Linked DNA regions of Homo sapiens: regions 2, 3, 4, 5, 6 and 7 are each linked to region 1. Evidence: fine-mapped expression QTL. A gene starts in region 1. Each other region holds a variant in brackets. All regions are shown on one strand. Distances are between the middles of the regions.

What was found. PIP is the estimated chance that this variant, and not a neighbour inherited with it, causes the effect.
Region 2: its variant is fine-mapped to the expression of BCR in ileum (GTEx, PIP 0.97).
Region 3: its variant is fine-mapped to the expression of BCR in whole blood (TOPMed, PIP above 0.99). The same link has a PIP of 0.9 or more in T cells.
Region 4: its variant is fine-mapped to the expression of BCR in lung (TOPMed, PIP above 0.99). The same link has a PIP of 0.9 or more in anterior cingulate cortex, blood mononuclear cells, pancreas, spleen, sun-exposed skin and thyroid.
Region 5: its variant is fine-mapped to the expression of BCR in sigmoid colon (GTEx, PIP 0.95).
Region 6: its variant is fine-mapped to the expression of BCR in whole blood (TOPMed, PIP above 0.99).
Region 7: its variant is fine-mapped to the expression of BCR in whole blood (INTERVAL, PIP above 0.99).

The regions. Positions count from the first base shown.
Region 1 is chr22:23,177,776-23,182,132 of GRCh38, forward strand. It overlaps BCR (BCR activator of RhoGEF and GTPase), which reads left to right and starts at 2,734. Exons shown (of 23, transcript NM_004327.4): 1 at 2,734-4,357. The coding sequence starts at 3,186. It also overlaps a transcript of RSPH14 not described here and the pseudogene BCRP8. RefSeq lists an enhancer at 1,654-2,464 and silencers at 2,585-2,824, 2,895-3,164, 3,185-3,264.
Region 2 is chr22:23,203,932-23,207,931 of GRCh38, forward strand. All of the region lies in intron 1 of BCR (BCR activator of RhoGEF and GTPase), which reads left to right. Among named protein-coding and RNA genes, the nearest start is that of BCR, 25 kb to the left of the region's middle. The variant T/G (reference allele first, on the strand shown) is at 1,709.
Region 3 is chr22:23,209,306-23,213,305 of GRCh38, forward strand. The region is part of intron 1 of BCR (BCR activator of RhoGEF and GTPase); the gene reads left to right. Among named protein-coding and RNA genes, the nearest start is that of BCR, 31 kb to the left of the region's middle. The variant C/T (reference allele first, on the strand shown) is at 2,430.
Region 4 is chr22:23,316,210-23,320,566 of GRCh38, forward strand. BCR (BCR activator of RhoGEF and GTPase) reads left to right here. Exons shown (of 23, transcript NM_004327.4): 23 at 1-1,828. It also overlaps the pseudogene POM121L11P. Among named protein-coding and RNA genes, the nearest start is that of LINC02556, 8.2 kb to the right of the region's middle. The variant G/A (reference allele first, on the strand shown) is at 1,932.
Region 5 is chr22:23,293,942-23,297,941 of GRCh38, forward strand. BCR (BCR activator of RhoGEF and GTPase) reads left to right here. Exons shown (of 23, transcript NM_004327.4): 16 at 1,083-1,214. Among named protein-coding and RNA genes, the nearest start is that of LINC02556, 31 kb to the right of the region's middle. The variant A/G (reference allele first, on the strand shown) is at 1,897.
Region 6 is chr22:23,303,180-23,307,179 of GRCh38, forward strand. The region is part of intron 16 of BCR (BCR activator of RhoGEF and GTPase); the gene reads left to right. Among named protein-coding and RNA genes, the nearest start is that of LINC02556, 21 kb to the right of the region's middle. The variant T/C (reference allele first, on the strand shown) is at 2,479.
Region 7 is chr22:23,146,671-23,151,027 of GRCh38, forward strand. RAB36 (RAB36, member RAS oncogene family) reads left to right here. Exons shown (of 11, transcript NM_004914.5): 2 at 1-15; 3 at 3,393-3,484. It also overlaps a transcript of RSPH14 not described here. Among named protein-coding and RNA genes, the nearest start is that of RAB36, 3.4 kb to the left of the region's middle. RefSeq lists enhancers at 2,803-3,303, 3,304-3,804. The variant C/T (reference allele first, on the strand shown) is at 1,947.

The sequences.
Region 1 (4,357 bases):
GAGCATGCAAACTCAAACTAAACAGCTTCAGAGTTTACTTAGAGACAGGGTCTTGCTCTGTTACCCAGGCTGGAGTGCAGTGGCGTGATCCTAGCTCACTGAAGCCTCAAATTCCCAGGCTCAGTGCAATCCTCCCACCCCAGCCTCCTGAGCAGGTAGAACTACAGGCACGAGGCACCATGCCAGGCTAATTTTTAAATTTTTTTGTAGAGATGGAGTCTCACTATGTTGCCCAGGCTGGTCTTGAACTCCTGGGCTCAAGCGATACTCCTGCCTCGGCCTCCCAAAACACCAGGATTACAGGCATGGGCCACTGTGCCTGCCTTTATCATACCCATTTTAAAGAAGAGGCCATTGAGGGCTGGGTGCAGTGGCTCACACCTGTAATTCCAGCACTACAGGAGGCCAAGGCGGGCAGATCACGAGGTCAGGAGTTCAAGACCAGCCTGGCCAACACAGTGAAACCCCGTCTCTACTAAAAATACAAAAAACTAGCTGGGCGTGATGGCAGGCGCCTGTAATTCCAGCTACTTGGGAGGCTGAGGCAGCAGAATCACTTGAACCCAGGAGGCAGAGGTTGCGGTGAGCAGAGATCACTCCACTGCACTCCAGCCTGGGCAACAGTGTGAGACTCCGTCTCAAAAAAAAAAAAAAATAGGCCACTGAGGATGAGAGCACTGCTCAGTATGGCACTACTGGGATTCCAGCCCCTTTAGTGGCCAGGGCATCATTTGCATCTCAGTTTCCTCACATGCAAAATGGGCTATTTGCAGCCTGATGGGAAGGGGATGAGAAGGTCCGCTGGGTCCAAGGGACCAGGATGGCAGGAGGTTAGCAAGGCCTGCAGAGGGCAGCAGTGAGCTGCGCACCGCCCACCCAGCCTAGAAACTGGGGCCCATGGGTTTTCCAGGGCAGGAATGTTCTCCAGGGGCACTAATATTAACAGGCAATCACGAAATCGACCCCTACACACCATTTATCAGGTTGTGTTTTATGTTTGCCCCATCTGGGCATTTTATGCAGGATGCTCTCAACATTTTGTACCGTGGCCCACAGGACTGGGTGGAAGACAGGACAGCTCAGAGCAGGGAGTGAAACAAAATCTTTGATGGTTCTCTAGGGAAGCCTGGAAATCTGAGACAGGGCAAAGAGCAGGGAGTCTGATGAGCACAAAATTAAAATACCCAAACCAGCCTGCCGGGTCAGGGGAAAAGGAAGCAGGATTGGGCACATGAAGAACAGATGACAAAACTGAGGCTCAGAGAGGCTGAGAGAGACACTGCTGAGGTCACACAGCCAGGAGTCGGCAGGAAGCCCTGAACCCAAGCAGGGCTGGCCTGGCTACTAGCCTGGGCTCAGTCCTTTAGATTGGACTTCAAAGTATCTGCTCCAGATGACGCTGGCATTGGGAGGAGGGCATGATAATCCCTAACATCCACACAGGGACAACAGCACTTGGAGGCAGATGTGCTTCTCACTTCAAGGAAACTGAGGCAGAGAGGGAGAGGTGGTCAGGACTCAAGCCCAGTAATTCATTTGCCAAATCCTGTTTCCTTTTCCCCCAACCCAGCGGGCTGGTTTGGGTATTTTCAGTTTGTGCCCATCAGAGTCCCTGCAGAGTGCTCTCCACTGTGTCTCAGATCTCTGTGTCCCCAGAGAACCATCAAAGGTTTTGTTTCACTCCCTGCTCTGGGCTGTCTTCCACCCAGCCCTGTGAACCTCAGTGCAGGTTGGCCGCCCCCTTAGAGGGAGGCTAATCAGGGAAGTTCTGAGTCAGGTCGTCCTGGAAAAACTACATTGACCTCTGGAGCTCAAGAGAGGCCAGGGGACAAACACATGGCTCAGCACACAGGAAGGCAGGTGTGGGTATTGAGTGACCTGAGGGAGAAATCCCTATTTATCATCCATCATGTGGTCCTGCTGTGACAAACCCGTGTGGCAGCCACCCACAGCAGATCCACAACGTGAGAGGCCCGCTGAAACAAGGGTGCTGGCATTGGTTACTCAGCCTGGCCCTCCCTGCCTTGCGGGGTGACCTGCCTGGTCCTGGCCTCTCTGTGAGTTGGGCCCTGCTGGGTGGTCCCTAGTGTGCCCAGCCCTGAGGCTGGTGAGAGGCCAGGCTGTGAGGTGTGAGGAACTTACCTGCGTCTCCATGGAAGGTGCCCTCCGCATCGTTGGGCCAGATCTGCCTGGTCTTGCAGATGCCCACGATGGTGGCCTCTGACACGACGACTGGGCAGTGCCGGTGACGCTTATGGCACTGCGGCGTGGTAGGGGCAGAGGGGGGAGGTTGCTTCTGTCGGAGGACTGCTGCGAGTTCTGCCAGAGAGAGCAGCTCTTGTCCCGGAACATGAGGTAGGTGGTGGGGCTTGGGGACACGCGGCTGGACTGGCCGGAGAAGTCCTCCTGGCCGGAGGGGAGCCAAGTGTTCCTGTTCCAGGACTGCAGAACTGGCCCAGACCTCTGTATTGGAAAGGTCTTTATGGACCAGGGAGTCCGGTGTCTTTTTTACGGGGGACCCCTGGGCTGCGAGTTGCACAGTCCAATTCGCTGTTGTTAGGGCCTCAGTTTCCCAAAAGGCACAGGGACGGGGGGAGGGTGGCGGCTCGATGGGGGAGCCGCCTCCAGGGGGCCCCCCCGCCCTGTGCCCACGGCGCGGCCCCTTTAAGAGGCCCGCCTGGCTCCGTCATCCGCGCCGCGGCCACCTCCCCCCGGCCCTCCCCTTCCTGCGGCGCAGAGTGCGGGCCGGGCGGGAGTGCGGCGAGAGCCGGCTGGCTGAGCTTAGCGTCCGAGGAGGCGGCGGCGGCGGCGGCGGCACGGCGGCGGCGGGGCTGTGGGGCGGTGCGGAAGCGAGAGGCGAGGAGCGCGCGGGCCGTGGCCAGAGTCTGGCGGCGGCCTGGCGGAGCGGAGAGCAGCGCCCGCGCCTCGCCGTGCGGAGGAGCCCCGCACACAATAGCGGCGCGCGCAGCCCGCGCCCTTCCCCCCGGCGCGCCCCGCCCCGCGCGCCGAGCGCCCCGCTCCGCCTCACCTGCCACCAGGGAGTGGGCGGGCATTGTTCGCCGCCGCCGCCGCCGCGCGGGCCATGGGGGCCGCCCGGCGCCCGGGGCCGGGCTGGCGAGGCGCCGCGCCGCCGCTGAGACGGGCCCCGCGCGCAGCCCGGCGGCGCAGGTAAGGCCGGCCGCGCCATGGTGGACCCGGTGGGCTTCGCGGAGGCGTGGAAGGCGCAGTTCCCGGACTCAGAGCCCCCGCGCATGGAGCTGCGCTCAGTGGGCGACATCGAGCAGGAGCTGGAGCGCTGCAAGGCCTCCATTCGGCGCCTGGAGCAGGAGGTGAACCAGGAGCGCTTCCGCATGATCTACCTGCAGACGTTGCTGGCCAAGGAAAAGAAGAGCTATGACCGGCAGCGATGGGGCTTCCGGCGCGCGGCGCAGGCCCCCGACGGCGCCTCCGAGCCCCGAGCGTCCGCGTCGCGCCCGCAGCCAGCGCCCGCCGACGGAGCCGACCCGCCGCCCGCCGAGGAGCCCGAGGCCCGGCCCGACGGCGAGGGTTCTCCGGGTAAGGCCAGGCCCGGGACCGCCCGCAGGCCCGGGGCAGCCGCGTCGGGGGAACGGGACGACCGGGGACCCCCCGCCAGCGTGGCGGCGCTCAGGTCCAACTTCGAGCGGATCCGCAAGGGCCATGGCCAGCCCGGGGCGGACGCCGAGAAGCCCTTCTACGTGAACGTCGAGTTTCACCACGAGCGCGGCCTGGTGAAGGTCAACGACAAAGAGGTGTCGGACCGCATCAGCTCCCTGGGCAGCCAGGCCATGCAGATGGAGCGCAAAAAGTCCCAGCACGGCGCGGGCTCGAGCGTGGGGGATGCATCCAGGCCCCCTTACCGGGGACGCTCCTCGGAGAGCAGCTGCGGCGTCGACGGCGACTACGAGGACGCCGAGTTGAACCCCCGCTTCCTGAAGGACAACCTGATCGACGCCAATGGCGGTAGCAGGCCCCCTTGGCCGCCCCTGGAGTACCAGCCCTACCAGAGCATCTACGTCGGGGGCATGATGGAAGGGGAGGGCAAGGGCCCGCTCCTGCGCAGCCAGAGCACCTCTGAGCAGGAGAAGCGCCTTACCTGGCCCCGCAGGTCCTACTCCCCCCGGAGTTTTGAGGATTGCGGAGGCGGCTATACCCCGGACTGCAGCTCCAATGAGAACCTCACCTCCAGCGAGGAGGACTTCTCCTCTGGCCAGTCCAGCCGCGTGTCCCCAAGCCCCACCACCTACCGCATGTTCCGGGACAAAAGCCGCTCTCCCTCGCAGAACTCGCAACAGTCCTTCGACAGCAGCAGTCCCCCCACGCCGCAGTGCCATAAGCG
Region 2 (4,000 bases), 26 kb after region 1:
TTGCATGGCTGCACTTGGCTGGCAGAAGCTGGGCTGGGACGGGAGGACAAACACCTCCCTGTGCAGGCAGTGGGTTCAGATGGTCTTGGCTGGAAGGAGGGCAGATAATGGTGAGACCACGTTTGGAGGGAGGGCAGCATGGTGTCATGGGCTTGGGGAGGAAAGGAGAGGAATGGCCCCTTCTTCAGCACTGACTAGTCGTCCTGCACCGTGGAGGGTGTTCCGTCTTATTTTCCAGCGCTCACAACTAGGAGCCAGCAGTTCAGTTTTAGCCATCCCAGCTCATGGATTATGGAGCTGGGACCCACGCTTGCTCCTCCTCTTGCTCTGCGTTGCCCATCTTAGCTGTGCCCTTGGCCGCCACTCTGACTCCAGTGAATCACGTAGACTCCTTGGGCCTCTGAATTCCTGTCCGTAAATGATGAAGCTGAATGGCAGCATTTTTAAGATCCGTTAGTTTTGTGATTCTAAATAAAATTAAGTCATGTTGCTCTGAGTTCCCAGAAAATTATTTTAAGATCCGTTAGTTTTGTGATTCTAAATAAAATTAAGTCATGTTGCTCTGAGTTCCCAGCAAATTATTTGGAAATCCCTCTTGGTGGATGTCCCAAAGCAGCCTTCCTGTAGGATCCTGGTTGTGTCTGGCTTCCTGCAGTAATGTGGATTGGGGTGGATTGGCCTCTGTGTGCACCCTTAATGGGAACCAGGACACTGCTTTGCTGGCTGATTTGTTGTCCTCCCTTACTGCCCACTGGCCAGTCTACAGGTCACCACCAGGACTGGAACAGATTTCAGAGGCCGTGCAGGTTTCATCTGGGGCAACGTGCCAAAGTGCAGAGCGTGGGCAGCGGGAGGCCCTGCCGTCCGCGTGGATGGGGGAGACGGCAGCATGGGGGTGTCTGCCAGGGCGGAGGTGATGATGTGCAAGCAGGTGGTTGGCAGCAGGAGGCCTGGTAGTGCCAGCTGGTGTCTTGCCAGCCAGAGCACAGCCCCGCTTGGTCAGGAATGCATGTGCTGAGGCCAGCACTGAGATGAGCAGGCATGCGTGTGTGGCCACCCCTATTTCTGTGCTATAGTGGGAGGAGCACATTAGGTACTTTGAGGCCATAATTTACCTTTGTTACAGATGACCAATTCCCCAACAGCCTCCCAGCCTTTTGCAGGCCCCACCTGGGATCAGAAGGCAAGGTATCCTTCCTGCAGGGAAAGCCTGTTAGTCTTTCCTGAGCATTCTTAGTGCCAGTTGGAGTAGGGGCTGTCTTGGTACTGAGCTGGCCGGTGCTGGAGATGGGCTGGTCAGTCTGGAGGGCATAAGGACAGGAAGGATACCGGCACTGAACGTTGTCACTCCTGTGGGGGTACAGATGCCTCAGTGGAAGCCACGCTTTCCTTCAGAATATTGCATTTGGTGGGCCTGTCTCAAGGTGCACTTTGACTCCTGAAGACCCTCCTTCTCCTCCTCTCACGGATCTGCCGGTGTTCCCTCTCTGGAAGGCTTGCAGGAGAGACAGGATCCCTCCCTTTACTGGAACTTTGCACTTGGGTTTGGCTTTGTGCTTTGTAAGGGGATCCCATTCAGCGTCCAGGATCCGAGCCTTGCTCTATTTCTGCAAGGAGCTGGTGGTTGCTGCTCGCCAAGGGGATACTCAGACAGCCAAAGCCTAGGCAGGATCAGAAGCTCAGGCAGCAGAGCCAAGATTTGAACCAA[T/G]AATTTTTTTTTTTTTTTTTTTACTTTACTCTACAGTATTGGGATTGGCTGAACTTTCCTTAAATGACCAGATAGTAACTAATTTTATGTTTGTGGCTGAGAGGCAAAATCGATGCTACTTTGTGGATACTTACATAACCATTTGGAATGTGAGCATGTGAAACTATAAAGAGCATTCTTAAGGCCTAGGTCACATGAAAACAGGTGGCAGTGGGCTGGATTTGGCCTGTGGGCTGCAGTTTGCCAACCTGTGTTTCACAGCGAGCTGCCTCCAAATGCCTGGTGGTGATGCAATCGATGACAGAGCCAGGTGTGGGCGTCTCACATCTGTGCTCAGGAGCTCACAGGAGCTTCTCTCCTATAGAACCTGTGAGGCAGGTAGGGTAGTCTTCCAAACCCCATGAGGATTCTTTCCTCAGAGAAGTTGCCGGAGGAGGAAAAGCTGGATGAGAGATGGTCACTTGGTTTCTAACTTCCCTTTCTCTTCCCTGTTTCCTGCTGCTTCCCAGGGCTGAATGAATATTCCCTGAAACAAGGCTGGCCATGAGCTAATAATCGTTGAAGCCAAATGATGGGGTAATGGGCATTCATGATGCTGTGCTCTTACTTTTGTATTTGTTTGAAATTTTCCAGGATAAAAAGCTAAGAAAATAGGCTGGGGGCGGTGGCTCACGCCTGTAATCCCAGCACTTTGGGAGGCCAAGGTGGGCGGATCACGAGGTCAGGAGATCGGGACCATCCTGGCTTACACGGTGAAACCATGTCTCTACTAAAAATACAAAAAAAAAGTAGCCGGGCGTGGTGGCGGGCACCTGTAATCCCAGCTACTCGGGAGGCTGAGGCAGGAGAATGGCATGAACCCAGGAGGCGGAGCTTGCAGTGAGCCGAGATTGTGCCACTGCACTCCAGCCTGGGCAACATAGCGAGACTCCGTCTCAAAAAAAAAAAAAAAAGTTAAGAAAATAGTCATTCATTGATTAAAGTTACCAAAAAACCCTTCCACATTGAGAGAACAGGGTGTTAAAACTCAGAAACCTTTTCAAGCCCCAAGATGAGCAAACTTGCTCCTCTTATTTCCTAGCAGCAGATGTTCCTGAGAAAGGGGTAGCTGTGCTTGAGCCATTCCATCATTCATCCAAGCCATCCATCTATCCATCTATTCATCATCAATCCAAGATCCAAACATTTATCTATTTATCTATCCACCCATCCATCCAACCAGTCATACAACCATCCATTTAACTATTCTTTATTCATCATCCATCCAACTAAATCTATTCATCCCTCTGTCATCCATTCATTCCTCCCTCCCTCCCTCCCTCCCTCCCTCCCTCCATCCATCCATCCATCATCTGTCTAACATCCAGCCAACCATCCATCCATTCAACATTGAACTATCCATTATTCACTCATCCATCCAAACATGCATCCATTCAGTCATCACCTATTCATCCATCCATTCATCCTCCAACCATTCATCTGTTCATTTGAAGTTGATGTGACACCTACTGGGGTCCAAGCACAATGCTTAGGCCTTGACTTTGTCCTTGACCTCAAGGAACCCATAGACATATATTAAAAACAGCTGATAAAGGGGTGCTGGGATGGAAGTGAGTACCAACCAGGCACTGAGAAGTGACTGACTCTGCTGGGTTAGCAGAAGGAAGACATTAAGGAGAGGATGGCCCATTAGTTGGATCTTGAATGGACTCAAAAGGAGTATATTGTAATCCCAGTACTTTGGGAGGCTGAGTTGGGAGGGTCGCTTGAGCCCAGGAGTTCAAAACCAGCCTAAGCAACATAGCAAGACGCTGTCTTTACAAAAAATTAAAAATTAGCCAGGTGTTTTGGTGCACACCTGTAGTTCCAGCTACTCTGGAGGCTGAGTTGGGAGGATCGCTTGAGCCCAGGAGTTTGAGGCTACATTGAGCTGTGATTGCACCACTGCACTCTAGCCTGGGCGACAGAGACAGACCCTGTCTCTGAAAAACAAAACAAACAAAAGGAGTATGTTAGGCCATTGTAGGGGAGGAGGAGAGGCCTTCTAAGCAGGGACTGTCACAAAGGAATGAAAGAGCCTAACAGCCTGGCCTGCCACAGGTTTCTCAGACACTTGGGATAGCTGGCATATGGTGTTGGGGTGAGAGACCAGCTAGTGATGATGTGGGGTGGTCTGGTGTTGACCCCCAGAGGCCAGAGAAGACTTCTGCATGGAGGATGGAGTGAGCATGGAGTGTGCGACTGCCATAGGCCCTGCTCAGTGCCCTACACCCCGTGTGTGCCTGTGACACC
Region 3 (4,000 bases), 31 kb after region 1:
GCCGAGATCACGCCACTGCACTCCAGCTTGGGCTACAGAGTGAGACTCTGTCTCAAAAAAAAAGAATCTCTTTTCTTTTTAAAGCTGAATAATATTCCATTGGTAGACACACATTTTGTTTATCCATCTCTCTGCCAGTAGACACTTGGGTTGCCTCCACCTTTTGGCTGTTGTGAATAATGTTGGCAGGAACATGGGTGTACAAATTTCGTGGCTTGTTTGCTAATTTATTTATTCATTTTTATTTTATTTTTTTGAGATGGAGTCTCGCTCTGTTGCCCAGGCTGGAGTGCAGTGGCGCGATCTCGGCTCACTGCAACCTCCCCTGCCTCCCGGGTTCACACCATTCTGCCTCAGCCTCCCAAGTAGCTGGGACTACAGGCACCCGCCACCACACCTGGCTAATTTTTTGTATTTTCAGTAGAAACGGGGTTTCACCGTGTTAGCCAGGATGGTCTTGATCTCCTGACCTTGTGATCCGCGCCCAGCCTATTTTTTAATTTTTTTAGAGATGGGGTCTTGCTGTGTTGCCCAGGCTGGTCTCAACCTCCTGGCCTCAGGCCATCCTCCTGCCTTAGCCCCCTGAGTAACTGTGATTACAGACATGCACCACTGCGCCCCTACTCAATGGTATTTTTCACATATCAGATTTTTACATTATTTGCCCCTCACCCACTTAACAGCTATTTGTTTTTCAACTAACTTCCTTTACTGTTTCAACAAATTTCCAATTATAGTAATTTTTACCCTAGAAAAAAGAAATTATGGGTTGAAGGTAAAACAAAAATACATATCTTGTGAATTATCTGTTCTTTTTCAAACATCTTAAAGACTTAGGCTGGGCACAGCAGCTCACACCTGTATTACCGGGAGGCTGAGGCAGGAGGATTGCTTGAGCCCAGGAATTTGAGAGCAGCCTGGGCAACAAAGTGAGACCCCATCTCTACAAAAAAATTTGAAAATTAGCTGGGCATGGTGGCATGGACCTATAGTCCTGGCCGCTTGAGAAACTGAGGTGGGAAGATAGCTTGAGCCCGGGAGGTCGAGGTTGCGGTGAGCCACAATTGTGCCACTGTACTCCAGCCTGGGTGACAGAGTAAGACCCTGTCTCAAAAAGAAAAAAAAAAAAAAAATTAAAGGCTTGAAAGATGTCATGATGTCATTTGATGGTTGTATATGTGCACGTATGTGCATTCAGGTGTAATTTACAGACAATGAAAGTCACTCTTGGTATACTGTTCTGTGAGGTGTGACAGCGTTCTGTAGCCATTACCTTCATCAAGATACACAGCAGGCCTATCACCCCAGAAACTTGCATTACCCCTTGTTCCTTGTAGGCATTTCTCCTACTTGCAGCCCACGACACCACTGATGTGCTTTCTCCCCTTACAGTTTAGCACTTTTCCGAATGTCATATAAATAGAATTGTACAGTGTGTAACCTTTTGGCTCTGGCTTTTTTCACTTTGATAATGCATTTGAAATTCATGCAAGTTGTGTGTACCAATAGGGCATTCCTTTTTATTACCGAGGATTATTTCATCCCACAGATGGGTCAGTACTGTTCTTCCCCTTTCTATCCCACTAACATCTTTATTCAGATGTAACATACATACCATAGAGTTCACCCGTTTAAAATGGACCATTCAGTGGTGGTTAGTATTATCTCAGAGTTGTGCAGTCATCATCACTGTCTGATTGCAGATCATTTTCATCACCCCCAAAAGAAACCCTATACCTATTAGCACTCTCTCCCCATCCCCTTCTTCTGTTAGTCCTGGCAACCACCAGTCTGCTTTCTGCCTCTGTGGATTTGTCTTTTCTGGGCTTTTCATAAATGGGATCACATGGTACATAGCTTTTGGTGACAGAGTTCTTAGAGCTTCTTTTTTTATTTGTTTGTTTTTTGTTGAGACGGAGTCTTGCTCTGTCGCCCAGGCTGGAGTGCAGTGGCGCGATCTCGGCTCACTGCAAGCTCCGCCTCCCGGGTTCACACCATTCTCCTGCCTCAGCCTCCCAAGTAGCTGGGACTACAGGCGCCCGCCACTACACCCAGCTAATTTTTTTGTATTTTTAGTAAAGACAGGGTTTCACTGTGTTAGCCAGGATGGTCTCGATTTCCTGACCTCGTGATCCGCCTGCCTTGGCCTCCTAAAGTGCTGGGATTACAGACGTGACCACTGCGCCCGGCCCTTTTTTTTGAGACAGTCTCACTCTGTTGCCCAGGCTGGAGTGCAGTGGTACAATCTTGGCTCACTGCAGCCTCCGCCTGCCGGGTTCAAGGATTCTCCTGCCTCAGCCTCCCGAGCAGCTGGGATTACAGGCGCCCACCACCACGCCTGGCTAGTTTTTTTTGTTTTGTTTTGTTTTGTTTTTTGTATTTTTAATAGAGACAGGGTTTCATCATGTTGTCCAGGCTGGTTGTAAACT[C/T]CTAACCTCAGGTGATCCACCCGCCTTGGCCTCCCAGAGTGCTGGGATTATCTTAGAGCTTCTCAATAGAAGTCCTATCTTCCAGGCCACATCTCACCCTCCAGGGGTAGGGGCTGGTGGAGCTGTTCTCACTCAGTTTGTCCTCAGTTCCTTCTTGAGCCTGGACCCTTCCCTCTAGATTTGGGGCTGCTCCTCTCAGAGTGCCCCAGAACAAAACCCCCTCCCTGTTCCCACTTCCCACTGTCTGCAGGACTCCCCTACCCCATAACCAGGGTCCTGCCAGCCCTACCCTCAGCCTCCCATAAGGGTCTGAAGTGGCAGGTGGATGGGAAACTGCACTCTCTGACCTCTGCAAGGGGACTGCTGCTTTCCCATGAGCTTCTCCTCTTTCCGTTGCTGGTTTCTTCTTTGTTATCTTTGCTGCTGGAGTGGCCAGACCCTGGGAAGCGGGCTGGAGAGAGGAGAGAAGCCATCGAGCCACATGGACCCCTACAGCCCGGAATCTGAGCTGTGGTAGGATTGGCTGCGATTGGGATTGGCAGACACACTGGGTTTGTACAGGAGGGGACCCTGAAGGATGGGCTGTGGTCAAAGTGGGATCCCTTCACTGTCCATAGTCCTTGGATCTGAAACTGCTGACAGGTGCCCCTGGGAACTGCTGTGGTATTTGGAGTCTATAGAGACACCCATTGCTCAGGACCCCAGGGCCTTAACAGGGAGTACACTGGCTTCTGGGAAGCTTGATGGAGTTGTTGCTGCATAGGTGCAGAAAATCCCAGCAGTGGAGTAAGGCCTGAAGTAAGCCCCCACTGGGCTCTGTGGGGCCTGGGGCAGCCTCCTCTGTTGCAGGGCCGCCAGCATCTCCAGCAGAAGTGCAGTGCTTGCTCTGGGGACACAGGGGCCTTTTGGAATGAGCATGTGGACTTGGCTTATGGATTGTGCCTACCCCAGAGCGTTGCTGTGTCTCTCAACACACACAGCTTCCATGGGCTGCTCACTCCAATTCTGATGGAGAGGGCATTTATGACTCTGTCCGTTGGTTTGTTTTCTCACTGAAGAGGAACATAGATGCACCTGCTCTCTGGGCAAGAGATGTGGCAGCTGCAAGCTGCACACCCTGTTCTGAATATTGCCCAGACCAGAATATGAATTACTTGGTCATAAATCAGTGTCTTGTCTGCAGAAAACTTGGCAATGTGAGGGACGGCAGCTTTAACTTGATTCCTGGGAGGCTGCCGGCCTCAAAAAGGACAAGGACTGGCAATCAGATGGGCATTCTCTCTAATTTGGGAGGCTTTCGGGCTTCCTCACGGAGTGCTGCTCCTGGGGACGTACCACAAGAACCTCCCTTGTCTAGTTTTGTTCTGACGCTTGGGCTCATTCACCTGACTGTCTCCTTGCTTGTCTGGCTCTCAGGAAAGCCTTCCCGGAGAGGATGTGGCTGACCCCTGCAGCCATCTCTCCACAGACAATCATGGCCCTGAGCTTGGCTGTCCTTGGTTGGGTACATCCAAGGCTCTGCCTGCCAGGGTAGGCACTGGCCAGGCTGTGGGATGGCAGCGTTGCTGACT
Region 4 (4,357 bases), 140 kb after region 1:
ACCCCAGGCTACGCACTTTAGGGTTCGTTCTCCAGGGAGAGCGACCTCGTCCCCCGATCCTGACCGCCCTTCCGGCCCACGCTCTCCTGTTTGGCTTCCACAGGCCTGGACTTCTCTGGCTTCTCTGCCCACACACTCCCTGCCCCCAGTGTCCCTGCCCCTGCCCCAGCACAGGTGACTTCATTTCTGTCCTCTCAGCTCAGTGGACTCGCTCAACTTTTGTATAAGTCTCCACTTGGTGGCAGCAGCTTGCTGATGACTTGTTTTAAAACTTTCATCCTAAATAACCTTTTGATACTTGAATATTTGTAAGTTTTATACATAGTTTCTAATTTTTTTCCGAACAGATCCAGATACCTAATAAGATGCTGGAATGTAATCCCTGGACAATCCGTGTCCTGGCAGCATTTGGTCTTCCTCTAAGCGCCTGGCTCCGCTGTTCTCAGGAGTGGGTTCTGAAGTCTCTGGAGAACAGGATACGTGGAGGGTTAGGAAGGGGCCAGGCCTAGAGACGGGAGACTCCCTCCCGGAGCAGGTGGAGGCACAGGACCATTCGCTACCCCATCTGCCGACACCTGCGGGGGAGCCCAGGCATTCTTTGTAAACCCTCCTGACCACCTGGCTCAAAGAAAACAGAAGCATGGAGACCGCCAAGTATTTTCAAGAAATAACCCCATGAATATTCCATCACTTTTTTAGAAAGAGGGGCTTGGGGCAGGCAGAGGAGAGAAGGGAGAGCAAACTGAGAGCCAAGTTTCCACACGGTCCTGCAGGAGGAGAGGATGCAGCTGCCCAGAGGGAAGCAGGATCACATTTAAGGAAGTGTGTGGGGTCCCTGGATGACACCAGCACCCAGTGCGGCTCTGTCTGGCACCCGCTCCCAAGGTGGGAGGAGTGGGTGTCCCCTGTGTGTCAGTGGGCAGCTCCTGCTGAACCCGCAGCTCACTAGGGAGCCTGACAGTGGGGCCATGCGCCTGACACTCCTCTCTGCTTGTGGACCTGGCAAGGCAGGGAGCAGAAAACAGCCACTTGAAGGCTTTCTGTCTGCGTCTGTGTGCAGTGTGGATTTAGTTGTGCTTTTTTCTTGCTGGGAGAGCACAGCCACCATTTACAAGCAGTGTCACCGTCGTGGGTGGCGAGGACAGAACAGGAGCCTCTGCTCTCTGTACCTATCTGGGCCCGGTGGGCTCCCTTGTCCTGGCTTCCATCTCTGTCTCAGCGACCATTCAGCCCTGCGCAGGAACACGTGTTGCTTAGAAAAGCCAAATCCAGCCTTGTCTCTGCCTCCTCTGGTCTCATGATGTGCATCTGTTACCTTGAAACTGGAAACCAGTCTATCAATGTCTGTGCCAATTTTTTATTCCCTCCCCAACCTCCTTCCCCATACGACTTTTTATTTATGTAGGATGTGTGCTGTCTAATGATGGGATGACCACACTTTTCCATGTTCTAAAAGTGCTCCTCTCCCGCAGGGTCCCAGGGCTGGTGGTTGCTTTGGGTCTACAGCTACGTCTTACCCACCTCCTGCCTCAACAGCCTGTGTGGTGGCAAAGCCGGTGTGGGGCTGGGGAACGCAGCGTTCTCCAGGAGGGGGACCTGGCTCTCCTTCTGCAATGCAGGCGAAGGCCTAGATGCCAGTGTGACCTCCCACAAGGCGTGGCTTCCAGACTCCCCGGCCGGAAGTGATGCTTTTTTGCCTTGGGCCCTGGGTTTGAAGCAGCCTGGCTTTCTCTTGGTAAGTGGCTGGTGTCTTAGCAGCTGCAATCTGAGCTCAGCCACCTACACACCACCGTGGCCGACACTTTCATTAAAAAGTTTCCTGAGACGACTTGCGTGCATGTTGACTTCATGATCAGCGCCGCTGGGAAGAACCCCTGAGCCGGTGGGGTGGGGCTGGAAGCAGCAGGTGCAGTGATAGGGCTGGGTGCCCA[G/A]GAGGCCTCAGTGCTCAATCAGGCCAAGGTGGCCAAGCCCAGGCTGCAGGGAAGGCCGGCCTGGGGGGTGTGGGTGAGCACAGGCAGGCACCAGCTGGGCAGTGTTAGGATGCTGGAGCAGCATCCGTAACCCCACTGAGTGGGGTAGTCTGGTTGGGGCAGGGACCGCTGTTGCTTTGGCAGAGAGAGATGATCCCCACTGGGGAGAGGCTGTTCTGACTCTGCAGGTGGGACAGGGACAGATGGCCACCAGGGTGACCCGGCTGGTCTTCCTTTGCTATGCTAAGCCCTGGGACATGGAGGATTCCTGCCACCCTGGGCCCGGGTTCTTACCTGTGGCCACCGCTCTGGCACGAGCCCCTCAGTCTTGGGTGGTTTCTGCCTGGTCCGGGATTTGGTGTTGCTGCTGAGTCCAGCCTTTCCACCACCTCCGCATGGGCCGTGGGTGTTGTCAGCTGCCTCCCGCCTTGGCTTCAGTAGCTCACCCAGCTTACAGGGGAGCTGCCCTGGGCTGGAGATGGGCATGCACCCTGGGTCCTACTTGAATGAATGCAGCTTGAGGAGAGCCGGCCATATACACTGGGCCACAGGTTACCCTCGGCAATGCCCACAGCTGTCAGCCTGAGCCTCCCCAGGAGAGCAAGGCTCACACGACAAAGGCTGCCCGTGGCCAGTGAGGTGGCTGAGCCCAGCCAGGACCTTTCTCGGACTCCCGGGATGTGGCTCTGCTCGTGAGCTGCCTGGTCAGCTCTCTCGGGGTGAGAGGGGCTTGTCACACGGGCGCCTGCCTGCAGTGTGACCCTTCTCAGCTTCTCTCAGCAGCCCTGCCTGCGGAGTGTCACCGCCACCATGATCATTTCCCTGACACTGCGAGGGTGGGGGGACGTCCTGGGTAGAGACAGGGCCCGTGGCAGCAGCAGGCTCAGGGGAGCCCTGCACTGGTGGACTGGGGACCTGGTGGAGACCACGCCAAGGGCTGGACAAGGGGACGAGCCTCCACCCTGGCCTCTCCGCAGGCCTCAGCAGCCCCTCCCACAGGCAGAAGGGTTGACACTGGGTTCTGCCCTCACTGCAAGAGCTGCAAGTGCCACGTGCTGTTCTGCCCAATCTGGTGTCTGCAGGTGAGGAAAGGACTGCCGCTGGCCCGTTTCTGAGTGTTCAGCACCTAAGGGTGACAGCACTGTCTGTCCCTACCCTCCGGGTCCTGTTTGAAGATCAAACCCATGCTCACAGGCCGATATTTTTTTCTTTTAGAGACAGGGTCTCACTTTGTCACCCAAGCTGGAGTGCAGTGGTGCGATTATAGCTCAATGCAGCCTCCAATTCCCGGACACAAGGGACCTTCCTGCCTCAGCCTGCCAAGTAGCTTGGACTATAGCTGTGTGTTTTCTTATTATTTTGTAGACATGGGGTCTGGCTATGTTGTCCAGGCTATTCTCAAAATTCCCAGCCTCAAGCAATCCTCCCGCCTCAGCCTCTCAAAGGTTGGGATTACAGGTGTGAGGCAAGGCACCCAGCTCAGCCACAGAGCCCTATTGCATCTCTCTTACTAAGAGCAAGAGCTGACTTCCCCCTCATCCCCATTCCAGAGTGTTGGGGCTGTGTTCAGCCGAGGCCAGGCCACTGGCATGGGCCCAGGGAGCGGGATCATTCACTGCTGCCCCAAATCTGAGATCATTCCACCTTGACAAGACTTCCTCATCCAATCCCTTTACTTGACAGCTGGGGAAACCAGTGCACACAGAGCACCCCCAGCTCAGTCAGGGTCTCAGAGCTGATCCATGAGCGGAGGCTGAGATCCTGGGATCTTGTCCCCCAGCCTCCCTGCAAGCTTACTCCCTTTCTTCTAGAAGAGATGGGGCCAGACCTCGACCAGCAGCCCTGGCCTGGACATGACTGTGCTCATGCAGGTATTGAGGCTGAGATGCCCCGGCATCACATTTTTTTCTTTCTTTTTTTCTTTTTTTTTTGAGACGGTGTCTCACTCTGTCACCCAAGCTGGAGTGCAGTGGAATGATATTGGCTCACTGCAACCTCTGCCTCCCGGTTAAAGTGATTCTCCTGCCTCAGCCTTCCAAGTAGCTGGGCCTACAGGCTTGTACCACCACGCCTGACTAATTTTTGTATTTTTACTAGAGACGGGGTTTCCTCATGTTGGCCAGGCTCGTGTCGAACTCCTGACCTCAGGTGATCCACCTGCCTTGGCCTCCCAAAGTGCTAGGATTACAGGCATGAGCCATGGCATCACTTAAACGTAGTGAGAGGCCGGGCGCAGTGGCTCATGCCTGTAATCCCAGTACTTTGAGAGGACGAGGCTGTCAGATCACCTAAGGTCAGGAGTTCGAGACCAGCCTGGCCAACATGGTGAAACCGTGTCTCTACAAAAAAACAGAAAAAAATATCCCTGCGTGGTGGTGAGTACCTGT
Region 5 (4,000 bases), 120 kb after region 1:
GGTGATGGAGGAGAGAGTTAACACCACGCACCCACGGCAGACAACTGGAGAGCTCGGGGAGCAGTTTTTCCTCCAAGTCCCTCTCCCTCCTGTATCAACCCCAAGGATCACTCTTTTGTTTCCTTTTAGATATAATTCATTTTTTAAAGAGCGGTTTTAGGTTTGCAGCAAAATGGAGCAGAAAGAACAGAGTTCCCATGTACCTCCTGCCCCCCATCTCAATTATGGACATCCCACTCCAGGGTGGGACATGAGTTACAGTTGATGAGCCTGCATTAACCCATCATTACCACCCAGAGTTCATAGTTGATGTTAGGTAGGGTTCATTCTTGGTGTTACACATGTTATGTGTTCTGACAAACGTGGAATGACGTGTATCCACCATAATAATATCTTACAGAATAGTCTCACCGCCATAAAAGTGAACCTGCATCGACAGATCATTATCTTTCAGAGTCCATAGAAATATCTTTTTTTGAGGGAGAGTCTCACACTGTTGGCCAGCCTGGAATGCAGTGGCATGATCTTGGCTTACTGCAGCCTCCGCCTCCCGGATTCAAGCAATTCTCGTGCCTCAGCCTTACAAGTAGCTGGGATCACAGGCATGCACCACCACGCCATACTATTTTTCGTATTTTTAGTAGGATGGGGTTTCGCCATGTTGGCTAGTTAGTCTCGTACTCCTGGTCTCAAGTGATCTGCCCACCTTGGCCTCCCAAAGTACTGGGATTACAGGTGTGAGCCACCGTGCCCAGCCCATAGAAATATCTTAACAAGTACCCTGGCGATTGTGAGGCAGGTGGTGTGGGGATCACCCTTTGAGATGCTGGTGTAAGGAGTTTGGATTAAGTTTGAAAGGCAGTCGGAGCTTCTGGAAGCATCCGGGCTGGGCCACGGTCTCATGCCAGGGGTGCTTACAAGGAATACTTCCATGTGTCCCAGGACTAAGGGAGGAGGGTCTCAGGCATTGGTCCCTCTGGGCCAGCAAGGGCAGCAGGGAGAGCCCCGGTTCAGAGGACCCTTCAGCCATAACATTGACCCGTTTGTTCACACTGGACTTCCCTTCTCCCTTGGGGCTGCAGGAATTTGAGATAGAGCTGGAGGGCTCCCAGACCCTGAGGATACTGTGCTATGAAAAGTGTTACAACAAGACGAAGATCCCCAAGGAGGACGGCGAGAGCACGGACAGACTCATGGGGAAGGGCCAGGTCCAGGTGAGGCAGCCATCCCTACCCTCCCCTGCCCGATGCATGGCGTCCTTTTTCATGCAGCCCCTGGGGACACTGAGATGGTCATGGCCTTGCACCCAGGGTGGGGTGGGGTGGGCAGCTGTGGCTCTGAAACATCCATCGTGGGAGACCTGAGCCGGTGCCTGCATGTATCTTGATGGGTCTTGACGTACCACCCTCTGTCTGCGTGTCTGTTGCGTCGGCTCATTCCCAAAGGAATTTCCATTCAACTTGGTTTTGCAGCTGGGGCCTCAGTTCCTGCCCGGCCTTAGGAGAACCCAAGGTGGAACAGTTAGATGGTGTCCTAGGCTGAAATTGGCCCATCCTGTGCCAGTCTTCTTAGAAAAGCACAGGGGTCCCAGAGGCTGCCTGCAAGCACAGGGGTCCCAGAGGCTGCCTGCTTGGCATCCCCTATCTGTGGTCTAGACCCAATTTCTAGGGTATAGAGCTGTATCTCTGAACAGGGTGCACACAGACAGGTCTCCTCCCAGGCTAATCTGGAAGCCCCCAGGTGAGACCGAGAATGTGTCCATACAGGACCAGCAAGGGGGCCCTGGTTCTTAAGGAGACTGCCTGGGCCCTCTGTCCTTCAGAAGCTTGTCTAGCCCCTGGGAGCACGCCACCAGGGTTTCCTGGAGGATCATAGCTGGCGCCCCAGGCCCTGTTT[A/G]TCCTGTTCCCACCCTCACAATTGCGCGGGGGTAGCTGAGAGGAAGCCCTGATCGTGCTTTCCTTATAGTGCATTATATCAGTGGGTTGTGGGTACAGCTCTCTCTTCCCAGGACCTTCCATCTTCACAAGAGGCCTCTAGAGGGAGTGGGTTTGGCTTTCCACATGCCCCTAGAAGCACAGGGCTCCTCAGGAAGCCCAGTCTCCCTCCCTAAGCAGGAAGTAAAAATCCTCTTGTGGTTAAATACCAAGTGCCAGGCTGGGCGTGGTGCTCACGCCTGTAATCCCAGCACTTTGGGAGGCCGAGGTGGGCGGATCACGAGGTCAGGAGATCGAGACCATCCTGGCTAACACCGTGAAACCCCGTCTCTACTAAAAATACAAAAAATTAGCCAGGCGTGGTGGCGGGTGCCTGTAGTCCCAGCTACTCGGGAGGCCGAGGCAGGAGAATGGCATGAACCTGGGAGGCGGAGCTTGCAATGAGTCAAGATCACACCGCTGATCTCTAGCCTGGGTGACAGAGCGAGAGTCCGTCTCAAAAAAAAAAAAAAAAAAAAAAATACCAAGTGCCAGGAAGAATGAAGGGAGAGGGTGGCTCTTCCCTGAGTCACCTGTCATCTTTGCTGATGGATCCCACATTCTCATTCAGATCAGCAAATCTTTACCAAGTGCTGGCCTCACCCCCTTCTGCCACCCTGGCCTGGCTGGCCACATCTTCGGAGGTGCAGCTACTGCCTGTTTTTCTGCCTTGGAAGCTTATAAGGGAACTCAGTGGCTCAGAGCCTCCTGGGGCTCCCTATACTTTGAGATCAGGTTTAAAAGCAAAAAGACTCCTCTGGCACATGCCTGTATTCCAGCTACTCAGGACGCTGAAGCGAGAGGATTGCTTGAGCCCAGCTATTCAAGACCAGCCTGGGCAACATAGACCCCTGTCTAAAACAAAATAAATTAACTAAAAATTGCTCTCAGCTCTCCTGTCGCTGTCCCACTGCACTGTCTTGTTCACTCTGCCAGCCTTTGTGTGGATTCTCATGGTGGGAGATTGTACCACACAGATGGGCCACACCACTCTTGATGGAGTACTTAGTGCTGGTCTCCTTTGAGATCCGAAGTATTTTAGCATCAGTCAAATGACGGTCATAGTTTGGGTGATGGTCACGGCTCAGGTTCTTTTTTACACGTGCTTGCTTTGGTTGTTGTTGTTGTTCTTTGTTTTCTTGAGGCAGTATCTGGCTGTGTCTCCCAGGCTGGCGTGCAATGGCAGGATCATAGCTCACTGCAACCTCAAACTCCTGGCTGAAGCAATCTTTGTGCCCTAGCCTCCCAAGTTGTTGGGATTACAGTCGTGCCCCACCATGCCTGGCTAAGTTGTTTTTTGTTTTTTGTTTTTTTTTTTTTTTTCGAGACAGAGTTTTGCTCTTGTTGCCCAGGCCGGAGTGCAGTGGTGTGATCTTGGCTCTCTGCAACCTCCCGGGTTCAAGCGATTCTCCTGCCTCAGCCTCCCAAAGTGATGGGATTACAGGCCTGAGCCACTGTGCCTGGCCACATGTGCTTTCCCATTCGGTCCTTGCAGCAGATCTTTGAGAGAGCTCATTTGACACTCAGGAGATGCTTCTCTAACCTGCTCAGAATCAGGGCCCTGGGTATTCAGGGAGGTAGAGGGAGCAGACTGCAAAGCCAGTCGTGCTCCCATCGCTCCCACTTCTCTCTCCCTCTCCATGTTTTCTGTCTCCCCCACCCAGCCTAGGGCATTCCTCCCCCACAGTCCAGCCTGCATCTGGCACAGTGTCACTGCTCAGCCCAGGGATACTCACAGCCTGGGTGCCTGGCTCCTTTTTTCAGCTCATCAAACCAGGTAAAGGGAGGTTCAGATTCTGCCAACCATTGACTCAATTCATCCAAATCTTCAATCACTGGAATCCTGGGAGTGGCTGGATTTGAACCAGGACCTCTGAGTACTATTGCTAAGTAACTGGGGGTCTCAGTGAAAGAGAGAAAAGAGCTGATAGGCCTCTTCCTGTGTTATCATGTCAGGCCATCTTTTGAAACTCTTTTCTGCAATGCTACTGAAGTATTTATGCACGTGACCTGTGCTCTTCTGTCAG
Region 6 (4,000 bases), 130 kb after region 1:
TATAGAGGTATGTTTTATGTCTCTGTCTGGGTACTGGAGATACCACAGAGAATGAACTGGACAAAGCCCTGTCCTCCACGTTTACTTTCCAGCAGCAGAGACAAACATAAGCCAAAATAAAGATCACGTCACAGGGGACGTGATGGGAGTCGGAGGAGGTATGGTCAGGTAAGGCGGATACCGTCATGAAGGCACCAAGAATCCTCATTTGTATTTCAAGGATTATCTGAGGGCCACGTAGGTCTTGTCCACACAGCCATTCACCCATTCAGGGGGGTCTCTGATGTGCCTGGGGGGCATTCCGAGATGAATGAGACATGCATGGTCCATGTGGCAGAGGCACCAATAGGAGAGAAACTTATGTATGTAGCCTCTTAAACAGACTTGGAGAGGGGCAGGCCCCAGGGGGTCTCTTGCAGCAGGAACACAAAATGAGTGATGTTTGTTTTGAACCAATATTTGGGGAAGATATGAAGATGTAAACATCATGAAAATGTAAGATCACATGAGCAAATTCTTACACAGATTCCACGGGATTCTTCTTGAAGCACACCGCCATCAACATGGATAGTGATACAGGTCCTCCTTGCTCTATTGAGAGCCACTTTTGGACCCTTTATTTTTAACTTTTGTACCATGAAATGCATCCATTTTTATAACCGAATGATTTTATAGTAAATTTACAGAGCTGTACAACTTTTACCAACAATCCAGTTTTAGAATATTTCTATCACCCCAATTTCCTTGTTGCCTTTTTTTTTTTTTTTTTTTTTAAGACAGGGTCTTGCTCTGTTGCCCAGGTTGGAGTACAGTGGTGCAACCACACTCAGCACAACCTTGATGTCCCAGGCTCAAGTGCTCTTCCTACCTTAGCCTCTCAAGTAGCTGGGACCACAGGCATGCGCCACCATGCCAGGCTATTTTTTTTTTTTTTTTTTTTTTTTGAGACAAGGTCTTGTTTTGCTGCCCAAGCTGGTCTCAAATTCCTAGGCTCAAGTGATCCTCCTGCCTTGGCCTCCCAAAGTGCTGAGATTACAGGTGTGAACCACCGTGCCCAGCCCCTGTTCCCAGTTATAGCCACTCCCAGACCCAAGCCGATCTGCTTTTTGTCTTTAGAGATTTGCCCATTCTTCACATTTCATAAACGTGGAATCATACTAGAGTGGGCTTTTTTGACTGATTTCCTCCACTTACCATTATGTTTTTGAGGTTTATTCATGTGGTAGCATTGTTTGGTTCCTTTTTATGATAATAATTTTCCATTGCATACATATAACATGTTTTTATTTCTGCATTTACTATTTGACAGACACTTGGATCATTTCTAGTTTGGGCTGTTAAGGTTGATGCAGCCACGAACATGTCCTTGGTACCAGTCTCTATATGGACGTATGTTTTCATTCACTGAGTAAACACCTAGTAAGATTGCTGGGCTGTGCAACAAGGTGACTATTTGGGGAACTGCCCTACGTTGTCTGGAGTAGCTGCACCATCTTACATCCCCAGTGGCCATGTATGAAAGCCCATTTCTCTACATCCTCACCGATGCTGGTTATAGTGTATCCTAAGGGAGAAGGGTGTGTTCCTTTTGAAGTGATGTTAGAGACTGGTTGGGATCAGAGAAGAGAAGCAAAGAGTTAAAAGTGGGATAGAGGCCAGGCGCGGTGGCTTACGCCTGTAATCCCAGCACTTTAGGAGGCCAAGTTGGGTGGATTGCTTTAGGTCAGGAGTTCAAGACCAGCCTGACCAACATGGTGAAACCTCGTCTCTACTAAAAATACAAAAATTAACCGGGCATGGTGGCAGGTGCCTGTAATCCCAGCTCCTCAGGGGCTGAGGCAAGAGAATGGTTTGAAGCCAGGAGGCAGAGGTTGCAGTCAGCCGAGATCTCGCCACTGCACTCCAGCCTGGGCAACAGAGTGAGACTCCGCCTTAAAAAAAAAAAAAAAAAGGTGCAGGATGGATCTCAGGAGAGCAGATTGTGGTCATAGACTACAGCAGGAGGCCTGTAATCTCTCTCCTGGTGAACACAGAGGTTCTCTGGTGGTCTCAGCAAAGACCCACCCCCGGGAGTAGGTTATAGTGCAGACACATGGGGCCCAGACAGGAACAACTGGGGTTGCCCTGCTGGACCATCCAGGCTGGTGACGATGGGCGTGAAGGAAGCTGTTGTCTACAAGGAGCTAAGTGAACAAGCATTTCCTCCTTTGGAAGGTTTACTCATAGCCCCCTCCCTGCCCCTGCTGAGGGTGGGTGAGAGGATGTCCTCCGGCTGCCCATTGGTGACTCAATCCAGCCACACTGACTACAAAGCAAGCAGGGCAGTGCTGGGCCCCCAGCAGAGCCACCATGCAAAGTGGTCAGTGATGCTTCAGGGCAGCACACAGCACCTGCCCCAGTTGGGCTTCGGCCTCCCTCAGCCCCCACCCCACCACTTCCCTGGGATGGATGTGCACGATAGTTTTCTAGGCAGACCTC[T/C]AGGCCACCATCTGCCAGGCCCGCTGACCATAGTCATTCTTTCAAGGCTCCTGCCTTACCCAGTCCAGGGGGAGAGGAGCAGCAACCTGGTCCATCCTCCTGAGACCACTGCATGTGAGCAGACAGACCCCTGCCTGCCCAGTCCCCGGCCAGGCAGCAGGCATGTTCCTCACCAAGACCTTGCAACCCAGGGGGACCCTGGACAGCATCCGGAGTGCCTCGGTTTTTCCCTTAAGGGAAAACTGTTTCCCCCTTGGTCATCTGTTTTTCCAAACCCCAGTCTTTTGCTTGTTTACTTCTCTGGTGCTTTAAATAACTGCACGAGAGAGCGTACCAGCCTTGAGCAATGTTTGGGATTGGCTGAGCTGAGGCACAGGCCTCATTATCATGCTATTCTTTATACGGCTTCCGCTCTGCGGCGCACACTCTGTTCTTTGGAACAGAGCCAGCCTTGGGACAGCCTTTCCCACTGGAGCTGCCAGTCAGGACCGCCGTGAGAGCCAGTGCCTGGAGGCCAACACCCTGGTCTTCAGTCACTGGGAGTCACAGAGAGGGGCCCGATAAAGAGCCCTCCTGGCAGCATCAGTACCAGGTTGGAGTGGGCGCTGGACACCACCAATGCTGGGGAGTGGACGCTGGCTGGAGCCCCACCCAGGGCTGCACATTGCTCAGCCAGCTAGCTCTGGGGGAGCAGGACCTGAGCAGGGTGTCCTCCACCCTGGGTCCATCAGAGGCACTGCATTTGATTATTGGGGTTACCTGCTGGGAGTGGTGCAGATTTTGGACAGTCTGGATTGCTTCCAGCACAAGGCAGGCTGACCAGTCATACTTTACTCAGTCTCCAAACTTGGGCAACAGGAAACTAGCCACTTGAGAAGGAAGCTCAGCTTTTCTGGGCTTTAGAGGAGATGGAGACACGTTGGAAATTCCCGTAACCAATAGGCTGGGGTGGGAGGGTGTTCTTCCCACACACACACAAAAAAGTGGAACCCGGAGGTGATGGGAAGCTTTGACCTTGGCCAGCCAGACTGCGGGGTGGGGTTTCCCTCAAAGCCTGGTCAAAAGGCCTTGGAGGCTGGAAGCTCTCGTTTAGCCCCACCAGCTTCCCAGAGCAGCAAGGCCAAGCATGCAAGAGTCACCATCCACCCTGGCCATGATGCAGGGCCTCCTTTGGTACTTCCACCCCAGCCGGGCGGGCCGGAGCCGGGCGGCCTCTGCTGAAAAGCACCTGTGGGCCGTGGTTCCAGGGGGGCTTTGAGGGGCAGCCGCTGATGTCTGGACAGCTTCTCTTTCTGTCTCTTCTTACCTGGACTCTGGGTTGCTTGTTAGCTGCTTCTGCCTGTTCTGGGTTTTCAAGGGGAGAGGGGCCCAGTGATGGCTGTTCTTTGAAGGAAAGGTAAGAATGTCTCCTGCTTAACATGTTTCTGTGTTTCCAGTTACTTGGTTGGTTAGTAGAGCCAGGGTCTCTCGCTTTGTTGCGCAGGCTGGAGTGCAATGGCATGATCATGGCTCACAGCAGTCT
Region 7 (4,357 bases), 31 kb before region 1:
GCCAGCTTCCCTAAGGTAGAGAGTCATTACGTCTGCAGTGCTCTCCTGGCCCTGCAGCCACATCAGCTCTCCCCACTCTACACTCATGCCTAGAAGTAAAGCAGGTGAATCAAGGAGGTCTGTCCATTGTCAGATTTACCTTGAGGAGCTGGGAGACTGGTCACTGACTGCCCAAGGTGGGACCGCAAGTTAATGGTGACACTGGGCAGCAGTGTGGCCTGGAGGTTATAAGGGCTGGGATTTTGCAGCCAGACAGTCCTTGATGTGAATCCTTCATTCTGATTCTGTCATTAAGCTGTGTGGCTGTGGGCAAATTACTCAACCTCTCAGAGCCACTGTTACATGAAGGTAATTCCTCTCATATTGGGTGCCTGGCTCATGGTATGCAGGAGCTCCCCTGCAGTCATAGTTGCTGTTGTTCTCATCATCGTTGTTGTTATCAAAACAGCATTCCAGTTCCATGACCCCAAATCCAGGGCTCTCTCCTCTTGCCATTCCGCCTCTATGAGCTTGAAAACTCACAGCTCTCTTGTGTCTGTATTAAAATCCAATATTAATTGCAGCAGGGAATACAAATTGAGTACAACCTCCATAGGGGGCAGTGGACAATATTTACCAATATAGAAGATGACCCTGCCCTCTAAGATCCAGCCATTCTGTTTCTTTTTTCTTTTTTTTTTAGAGACAGGATCTTGCTCTGTCACCCAGGCTGGAGTGCAATGGTGCCATCATAATTCACTCCTCTAACTCCTGGGCTGAAGCAATCCTTCTGCCTCAGCCTCCCGGAGTAGCTAGGACCACAGGCATGTGCTACCATGCCTGGCTAATTTTTAATTTTTTTTAATAGAGATGAAGTCTTGCTATGTTGCCCAGGCTGGTCTTGAACCCCTGGCCTCAAGCAATCCTCCCACCCGGGCCTCTCAAAGCACTGGGATTATAGGTGTGGACCACCACAACTGGCCTTGCTATTCTATTTCTAGGAATTTACTTGGCAGATATTCTGGCATGGGTTTACAATGTGCATAAGGATAGGGGTTGGAGCAGTTTGTAAGAATAGAAGATAAGATACAACGTAAACATCCTCGGAGAGGGGACTGGTTAAACAAGTAATGCTTCCTGGCACAGACATGAGGAAGAATGAGGCAACCTCTTCAGGAGCTGACATGCAACGAGAGCCAAAGTAAACCGTTAAGTAAAAATGCAGGGCATGGAACAGAGTGCAGTAGAGTGTGTGCAGCACACTCCGGTGTGTGAAAACAAGGAGAGGGAGAAATGTCTATTTGTTTATATATGCAGAAAATATTTCTGGCAGGATATATAAGCCCCTACTCTCAGTGGTTGCCTCTGTGGCTTCGGACAGGTGCAGAGGGATAGATCCTCTCCATGGAATGGCCTTTTTTGCATCTTGGATTCTGTGGCCAGGCTGGTGAGGAGGAGGTGACTCTAGACAGGTCCTGGGTATTTGGAGTATGTGGCTCTTCCTCCTTCCCCCTTCTTTACCTTCCTCCCTAAGTTCCTTCTTCACACACCTACAGAGAAAGGCTTTGTGTCTCAGACCTGTGGACAGTTCCCCATGGGTTTTCCATCTCAACAGAGGCTCAGGCAATTATTCTCTCTGCAGAGCTTGACAGTGGTAACTAGGGATGACAGAGACTGGTCTTTCTTGAGTCAAAAGGAAGGAAAGTGTGATTGGCACAAAACAGTCCAGGTATCATGAGATGAAGAACCTCATTGGCAGAGCAGACGGCGAGGATCAGAGTTAAGGAGGGTTGCCTGACATCACACAGCTGCTCCTGGTACCTCTGGGATTTGACCTGGCCGTGTCTGGCTCCAGAGCACCCTACCCCAGGGAAGCAGCTTAGGGAATCCATCCTGGTTTCACAGGTGGCATTCTCCCCTCCTGCCCATAATAGTCAGGGATCAAGGCCACTGCTGGTCAAGTTCAT[C/T]CTGCACCCCAGGGCCCTGAGAAATTCAGTCAGGTTGAGCAGGGTCTTCAGACTGCTTGCCAGGCAAGTCCTTCCCTTTATGCCATGTGCCTCAGTTTCCCTGTCTCTGAAATCAGCTCACACTTCTTACCCTGCAGCCTTCATTATCACAGTCTTCCAGCCATCCTGTAATGACCATTGTGTCTGAGCCAGTCCCTAGCTTAAAGCTGTCATGGAAGCTGACAGAAAGAAGCAGCCAGCTTGTTCATGGTAGCTGCTGCTCTTCTGCAGGAAAGTAGACTATCAGGCTAAGCTGCTCACCTGCATTATTCAGTTACTCCTCCAACGACCACATGAAAAGGTGCTATTATGAGCATCCCTGTTTAATATTTAAGGAAACTGGAGCTCGATAAGTTTCTGTAACTTGCCCTTTGCCAGTCTCCTTTCACCATCCCTGCTGCCTCAATCACAGCTGGAACTGAGAGGGCAGATGGGCCAGGCAGAGCCCGAATCCATGGTTGAGACACTGCGGCTGAGGGAGGGGAGCTGTGGATCCAAGCAGTGTTCAGAGGGACAGAGCAGGTGGCTGTGGCTGTGCAGGGGTGGGGGGCGGGGGGCGGGACCCTTGCCATACACAGATCACACCAACAGCCTCAATGGTGTCCTTCTCCCCACATCCTTGCCACATTCTGTATTTAGCCTGGGCCAATCCAATGGCAAAAAATAATGGTCATCTTTAGTTTGTTTAATCTCATTTTTTTCTAATTACAGACCAGGTGAGGGTGGGTGGGGTACGTGCAGTTTTTTCTGACCCTGAGGCCCATGCTCTTAAACCACTGCTCAGGTCTGCCTTCCAAGAAACGTGGACAGCAGAAAGCGCCTCCTAGGACATTTTCCAGGCACATGTATGCATGTTTTTAAAACAAAATGTCATCAGAGATTCATAGAAGGTATGGATTAGAGACAGGGTCTCACTCTGTCACCCAAGTTGGAGTGCAGTGGCATGATCATAGCTCACTGCAGCCTCTGTCTCTTGAGCTGAAGCAATCCTTCCACCTCAGCCTCCTCAGTATCTAGGACCACAGGCATGTACTACTGCACCTGGCTAATTGGATCTTGGAGGATCTTGGCACCAAAAGAGCTCCACTCGTCTCGCCCTGAGAGGGTTGAGACCCAGAGCAGACAGGCCTGTCACATGCATGCAGCAAGGGAACTGCGGCCCCAGGTGAGACACAGATCTCCAAGTCCCTGCCTGGGCTCGCCCCTCTGGACTCACAAGGCCCCAGAGCCTCAAGGCTGAGGAAATAGAAGATACACATGACAAATGGGTCAGGGAAAGCTAATGAGGCTGCCAGCTGTGAGGCCTAGGAAGGAAGGCTGGGAAGATCATCTCCCCTCACTGCTTGGCTACGAGGGCGGAGCCACAGCTTTGCAGGATGATGTGTCCGTCTGTCTGTCTCTTTGCAGTGGTACACGCCGGAAGCCTGTTTGCAGCTCAGGGAGCACTTCCACGGGCAGGTCAGCGCTGCCTGCCAACGCAGGAACACGGGGACTGTCGGGTGAGCCTGCAGGGTGTGGGATGGGGGAGCAGGTGGCAAGAAGGAATGAGTGCATGAAGCACGTGAAAGAATGAACAAATGAAACACACACACGAGGCTGGTGCAGCCCTGTACAGGCCTGAAGATGACTGGGGTTTTCTTTTTTTTTTCTTTTTTTTTTTTTTTGAGACAGAGTCTCGCTCTGTCGCCCAGGCTGGAGTGCAGTGGTGCGATCTCAGCTCACTGCAAGCTCTGCCTCCCGGGTTCATGCCATTCTCCTGCCTCAGCCTCCCGAGTAGCGGGGACTACAGGCGCCCGCCACCACGCCCGGCTAATTTTTTGTATTTTTAGTAGAGACGGGGTTTCACCATGTTAGCCAGGATGGTCTCGATCTCCTGACCTCGTGATCAGCCTGCCTCGGCCTCCCAAAGTGCTGGGATTACAGGTGTGAGCCACCGTGCCCAGCCAGATGACTGGGGTTTTCATCTGGCTTCAGTTAACACACCTGCCATATGGAACAACTTTCCCTCTTCTAAGTCACGCAGGTGATTTTTCAGCCTCAGGTCTTGGTACAAGTTCATTTCCTCTGTCTGGAATGTCTTTCCTAATCCCCTCGCTTCCCCTTCCCCTTCCCCTTCAGGTCTCAGCGTGTCAAGTCCTCTGGGAGCCTTCTCTGACCCCCCACTACCCTTGCCCCTGGACTGGGGAGGGTACCCCTCCTGGGTGCTCTTGTGCCCCCAAGAACTTATCTCACAGAATTGCAGGCTGGATTCCTCACTAGACCTAGCCCAAGAGGGCGAGGGCTGTGTCTGTCCTCTTCCTGCCGCGGCAGCTCCTGCCACCACTGGCAGAGGGATTGTGAAATAGTCATTCCTTCTTTTAACAAATAGGTAC